Linked DNA regions of Homo sapiens. The protein of the gene in region 1 purifies or fractionates together with the protein of each later gene. This does not show direct contact. Each region holds a gene or a part of one and is shown on either strand. Other genes may lie near its edges.

The links.
Region 2: the proteins of PARS2 (region 1) and ALDH16A1 fractionate together in Homo sapiens (co-fractionation; one large-scale study listed by BioGRID). This does not show direct contact.

The regions. Positions count from the first base shown.
Region 1 is NC_000001.11:54,756,398-54,758,960, reverse strand, and holds the end of PARS2 (probable proline--tRNA ligase, mitochondrial precursor), read left to right. Parts: coding exon 1-1,227; 3' UTR 1,228-2,063; downstream 2,064-2,563. UniProt on the Homo sapiens protein: Mitochondrial aminoacyl-tRNA synthetase that catalyzes the specific attachment of the proline amino acid (aa) to the homologous transfer RNA (tRNA), further participating in protein synthesis.
Region 2 is NC_000019.10:49,463,003-49,467,009, forward strand, and holds part of ALDH16A1 (aldehyde dehydrogenase family 16 member A1), read left to right. Parts: intron 1-851; coding exon 852-947; intron 948-1,124; coding exon 1,125-1,261; intron 1,262-1,414; coding exon 1,415-1,520; intron 1,521-1,629; coding exon 1,630-1,760; intron 1,761-2,735; coding exon 2,736-2,903; intron 2,904-3,079; coding exon 3,080-3,281; intron 3,282-4,007.

The DNA.
Region 1 (2,563 bases):
TGTAAGAGCCAGCGGCTGATGCTGCAGGTGGGCCTGATCTACCCAGCAAGCCCCGGCTGTTACCACCTCCTGCCATATACCGTCCGTGCCATGGAGAAGCTCGTGCGAGTGATAGACCAGGAGATGCAGGCCATCGGGGGCCAGAAAGTCAACATGCCCAGCCTCAGCCCGGCAGAGCTCTGGCAAGCCACCAACCGGTGGGACTTGATGGGCAAAGAGCTGCTAAGACTTAGAGACAGGCATGGCAAGGAATACTGCTTAGGACCAACTCACGAGGAAGCCATTACGGCCTTAATTGCCTCCCAGAAGAAACTGTCCTACAAGCAGCTTCCCTTCCTGCTGTACCAAGTGACAAGGAAGTTTCGGGATGAGCCCAGGCCCCGCTTTGGTCTTCTCCGTGGCCGAGAGTTTTACATGAAGGATATGTACACCTTTGACTCCTCCCCAGAGGCTGCCCAGCAGACCTACAGCCTGGTGTGTGATGCCTACTGCAGCCTGTTCAACAAGCTAGGGCTGCCATTTGTCAAGGTCCAGGCCGATGTGGGCACCATCGGGGGCACAGTGTCTCATGAGTTCCAGCTCCCAGTGGATATTGGAGAGGACCGGCTTGCCATCTGTCCCCGCTGCAGCTTCTCAGCCAACATGGAGACACTAGACTTGTCACAAATGAACTGCCCTGCTTGCCAGGGCCCATTGACTAAAACCAAAGGCATTGAGGTGGGGCACACATTTTACCTGGGTACCAAGTACTCATCCATTTTCAATGCCCAGTTTACCAATGTCTGTGGCAAACCAACCCTGGCTGAAATGGGGTGCTATGGCTTGGGTGTGACACGGATCTTGGCTGCTGCCATTGAAGTCCTCTCTACAGAAGACTGTGTCCGCTGGCCCAGCCTACTGGCCCCTTACCAAGCCTGCCTCATCCCCCCTAAGAAGGGCAGTAAGGAGCAGGCGGCCTCCGAGCTCATAGGGCAGCTGTACGACCACATCACAGAGGCAGTGCCTCAGCTTCACGGGGAGGTGCTCCTGGACGACAGGACCCATCTGACCATCGGAAACAGACTGAAAGATGCCAACAAGTTTGGCTACCCCTTTGTGATAATCGCTGGCAAGAGGGCCCTGGAGGACCCTGCACATTTTGAGGTTTGGTGTCAGAACACTGGTGAGGTGGCCTTCCTCACCAAAGATGGAGTCATGGATTTACTGACCCCAGTGCAGACTGTCTAAATGCCCCCAGCCCACCCCTGCCCCCATTTGCAGCCTTGGTGTTCGTTCTAACACTGCATTTTCCTACACCCCTTTCCTGGACTGCTCTCTCCAGAAACAGCACAGCTCATGGAGGGTGAGATCATGTTAGGGAAATCAATTTTTATCTAGTCATTTGTTCAGATTATTTGTATTTAAAGTCATTAACTTGATCCCTTTCTCCAGACTGGCCATGCCGCCATATACCTTTCCTTTTGTATTCCATTGTGGAAGCTTCTAGGAGGCTGAGAAGCAGGAGATCCAAGCTCCAGTCCTGGGTGTTACCCTGAGGGGGGAAGTCACTTCCCTTCTCTCAGCTGAGTTTTTCACGTGTAAGATGAGAATGGCTGATGGCTGAGAGCCCACCAACCTTCCCCACCCCGTATCAGTTTGACCACGGGCCTTTTGCTACATTCTATCCAGAGAGCAGGCCTGCCAGCCCCTCTCCACTGAGAAGTTGGGCTGAGAGTATGGGGAAAAGAATCAAGAGACCTGACTGCCGCCAACTCACTAGTGACTTAGATACATCCCCTCCCCCTGCTGGGGCCTCAGTTTCCCCATCTGTAACTTGAGAAAATAGAACTAGATCTGTAAAGTCTGGAACTAGATCTGTAACGTCCTTATAGGTGTCACTAGGGGGTTCCATGAGAGGTGTGTGACAGGCAGTCTGATTCCTCTCATTCTCCATAGTCTGTTTCCTGGAAAGTCGATGTAATTAACTGATGGCCCAAAAACTACCTCAAGAGACCTGGCCCTGTTAAGACGGCTTAACCACTGAGATCCCGTTCTATTGATTTAATAAAGTCAAACTATTGGAATGGGCCTTGCACATTAATTTGAAACAATGATAACATCTGCCATTTTAACAGTGCAACAGCTTTCTACTCCTTTTCTTTCCTTTTTGACTGTTCCCACACACCCATCCCTAACATAAAAAATCAGGTGGTTAGGAAAATGTGGTTTAAACCATTTCTTCCCCCAAGTATCGGGGCAGCAGGCTTCAACTGCCACGGTGACCTTATCGTAGGTACAGAGTTGGATCCTAGAGCCAAGATGGGGTGAATATTAAGAGCTGGTCTCTTGTGTCCTTAATGTAGAAGCTGGTTTTAAAGAAAAAAAAAAGCTACTCTCTGCCTGAATTGTATGGAAAGATGGAGCAAGCTTGAACTACCCTAGCAATGCCAACTACTTTCATTGCTCCTGCATCTTAGATAAGGAACATAACCAAGTTTTCCATCCTTGGCCCCCTAGGGTCTCTGCATGTCCATATCTGACAAGAATCTGTGAAGACCAAGCTCAAAGCCAGCATCTCCTAAAA
Region 2 (4,007 bases), on another chromosome or scaffold:
TGAGGGAGGAGGGGCTGGGCCTGGACTCCTGGGTCTGAGGGAGGAGGTGCTGGGGCCCGGATTCCTGGGTCTGAGGGAGGAGGGGCTGGGGCCCGGATTCCTGGGTCTGAGGGAGGAGGGGCTGGGGGTCCAGACTCCTGGGTCTGAGGGAGGAGGGGCTGGCGGCCTGGACTCCTGGGTCTGAGGGAGGAGAGGCTGGGGGTCCAGACTCCTGGGTCTGAGGGAGGAGGGGCTGGGGGCCTGGACTCCTGGGTCTGAGGGAGGAGGGGCTGGGCCTGGACTCCTGGGTCTGAGGGAGGAGGTGCTGGGGCCTGGATTCCTGGGTCTGAGGGAGGAGGGGCTGGGGCCTGGACTCCTGGGTCTGAGGGAGGAGGGGCTGGGGGTCCAGATTCCTGGGTCTGAGGGAGGAGGGGCTGGGGGCCTGGACTCCTGGGTCTGAGGGAGGAGAGGCTGGGGGTCCAGACTCCTGGGTCTGAGGGAGGAGGGGCTGGGGGCCTGGACTCCTGGGTCTGAGGGAGGAGGGGCTGGGCCTGGACTCCTGGGTCTGAGGGAGGAGGTGCTGGGGCCTGGATTCCTGGGTCTGAGGGAGGAGGGGCTGGGGCCTGGACTCCTGGGTCTGAGGGAGGAGGGGCTGGGGGTCCAGACTCCTGGGTCTGAGGGAGGAGGGGCTGGGGGCCTGGACTCCTGGGTCTGAGGGAGGAGAGGCTGGGGGTCCAGACTCCTGGGTCTGAGGGAGGAGGGGCTGGGGGCCTGGACTCCTGGGTCTGAGGGAGGAGGGGCTGGGGTCCTGCAGTCCTCGGTCTCAGCAGGAAGGGACCAGAAGTCGACTTCTAGATCATTTCTCTCCCTAGGTGTTCCAGGCTGGTGATGTGCCTTCGGAACGCCCATTCTATCCCCCAACCTTGGTCTCCAACCTGCCCCCAGCCTCCCCATGTGCCCAGGTGGAGGTGAGACCCTTAAGGCTGCAGAGCTCCTACCCACCGCCAGCCAAGGGCAGCAGCTCTGTGCCTGGGGAAGCCCTTGGGGTAACCATGTGACCTGGGCGTGGGGGCTGCTGCCTGCTCTAGGCTCCTTCCCTGGTGGGTGGGCCCTGGAGGGCTGAGCCTCCCGGTCACCCCTTGCAGGTGCCGTGGCCTGTGGTCGTGGCCTCCCCCTTCCGCACAGCCAAGGAGGCACTGTTGGTGGCCAACGGGACGCCCCGCGGGGGCAGCGCCAGTGTGTGGAGCGAGAGGCTGGGGCAGGCGCTGGAGCTGGGCTATGGGTCAGTCTGCGTGGCCCGGGCGCTCACTCCTCTCCTCATTCTTCCATCTTCATCTCCCTTCTCCCTGGGTCGCTCCCCGCGCCTTTAACTCACCCCTCTCCCGGCCTGCCACCGTCTGTTTTCCTCTGTTGGACACCTTCATCTTCCCCACAGGCTCCAGGTGGGCACTGTCTGGATCAACGCCCACGGCCTCAGAGACCCTTCGGTGCCCACAGGCGGCTGCAAGGAGAGTGGGTGTTCCTGGCACGGGGGCCCAGACGTGAGTACATCCCCTCCCCGTCACCAGCCCCCCCGCCGCCCCATGCCCTTGACACTCGCATCCGGCCTCGCGTGCCCCTTGCATCCTCTTGACACCGTCCCTCTCACAGGGGCTGTATGAGTATCTGCGGCCCTCAGGGACCCCTGCCCGGCTGTCCTGCCTCTCCAAGAACCTGAACTATGACACCTTTGGCCTCGCTGTTCCCTCAACCCTGCCGGCTGGGCCTGAAATAGGGCCCAGGTGAGTCGTTGGGGGCCAGTGGTCTGGGAGTGTGAACGGGGAGAGGGGAATTGATGCCTGTTTCCCCGTGGACTGGAGGGCTGGCGCGAGGTCCATCCAAACCATCTCTTAGTCCTGCTGAGTACCACGTTGTGGCCTCACACTTTCCCTACCCCAGGCCTGCCGAGACTCTCAGCTCTGCCCCATGAATGTCTGTACTCTCCCAGAAACTCATGGGTCTAGGAGCTTGGGGTCCCCCAGAGGTTCACTGGAGCAGAAGCTTGGGGTCCCTCAGAGGCTCATGGGAGCAGGAGCTTGGGGTCCCCCAGAGGCTCATGGGAGCAGAAACTTGGGGTCCTCCAGAGGCTCATGGGAGCAGGAGTTTGAGGTCCCCCCAGAGACTCAAGGGAGCAGTTTAGGGTCTACCAGAGGCTCATGGGAGCAGGAGCTTAGGGTCCCCCAGAGGCTCATGGAGCAGGAACTTAGGGTCCTCCAGAGGCTCATGGGAGCAGAAGCTTTGGGTCCTCCGGGGCTCATGGGAACAGGAATTTGGGGTGCCCCACAGGCTTATGAGAGCAGTTTAGGGTCTGCCAGAGGCTCATGGGAGTAGGAGTTTAGGGTCCCCCAGAGGCTCATGGGAGCAGGAGTTTAGGGTACCCAGAGGCTAGTGGGAACAGGGGTTTGGGGTCCCCCAGAGGCTCATGGGAGCAGAAACTTGAGTCATCCAGAGGCTCATGGGAGCAGGAATTTGGGGTTCCCCAGAGGCTCATGGGAGCAGTTTAAGGTCCCCCAGAGGCTCATGGGAGCTGGAGTTTAGGGTCCCCCAGTGAATCATGGGAGCAGGAGTTTTAGGGTCCCCCAGAGGCTCATGGGAACAGGGGTTTGGGGTGCCCCAGAGGCTCACGGGAGCCAAGGCAGTCTTCCCAGTGCGGTAGAGCATAGGGTCTGAGCAGATTGAGGCCCCAGGACTCCTCCTCATGTCCCACCCTACTCCAGCCCAGCACCCCCCTATGGGCTCTTCGTTGGGGGCCGTTTCCAGGCTCCTGGGGCCCGAAGCTCCAGGCCCATCCGGGATTCGTCTGGCAACCTCCATGGCTACGTGGCTGAGGGTGGAGCCAAGGACATCCGAGGTGCTGTGGAGGCCGCTCACCAGGCTTTCCCTGGGTAAGGGGTCACACGGGAAAGCCCAAGGGTCATGGTGTGGCAGAGAGGGGAGCCTGCCCACAGCAATTGGTGGACTGGGAGGCTGGGCCCCCAGGGTAGGGGCTGTGGACAGAGGTGGGGTGTCAGGAGAGCCAAGACCAGGATGCCAACCCCCACTGTGCGCTGTCTGCCCACAGCTGGGCGGGCCAGTCCCCAGGAGCCCGGGCAGCCCTGCTGTGGGCCCTGGCGGCTGCACTGGAGCGCCGGAAGTCTACCCTGGCCTCGAGGCTGGAGAGGCAGGGAGCGGAGCTCAAGGCTGCGGAGGCGGAGGTGGAGCTGAGCGCAAGACGACTTCGGGCGTGGGGGGCCCGGGTGCAGGCCCAAGGCCACACCCTGCAGGTGAAGGGTCTGTGGGCACCTGGGCCAGCTGGGCAGGCGGGGTGGGGCTCAGACCAGAGGCTGTGAGATAACCCAGGCTTGGAATTCGGGCCCAGCCCCACCGCCTTCCACGGCAGGATCATCAGCAAGTGGCTTCACCTCTCCCTACCTCAGTTCCCTCATCTGTACAGTGAGTGGGCACACAACCCGCCTCGTAGAGTAGCGTTCGCCAGATGATGGATAGCGACCCATTCCTGGACCCTAAAATCAATTTAGTGGGCTGTTAGGCGGTTCTCACATTGCTGTAAAGAAACACCTGGGGGCGCAGTGGCTCACGCCTGTAATCCCAGTACTTCGCGAGGCTGAGGCAGGCGGATCACGAGGTCAGGAGATCGAGACCAGCCTGGGCAACACGGTGAAACCTGGTCTCTACTAAAAATACAAAAAATTAGCTGGGTACGGTGGTGGGCACCTATAGTCCCAGCTACTTAGGAGGCTGAGGCAGGAAAATTGCTTGAACCCAGGAGGCAGTGGTTGCAGTGAGCCGAGATCGTGCCACTGCACTCCAGCCTGAGTGACAGAGTGAGACCTTGTGTCACAAAAAAAAACAAAAAACAAAAAATACCTGGCCAGACATGGTGGCTCACGCCTGTAATCCTAGCACTTTGGGAGGCAAAAGTGGGTGGATCGCTTGAGGCCAGGAGTTTGAAACCAGCCTGGGCAACACAGTGAAACCCTGTCTCCACA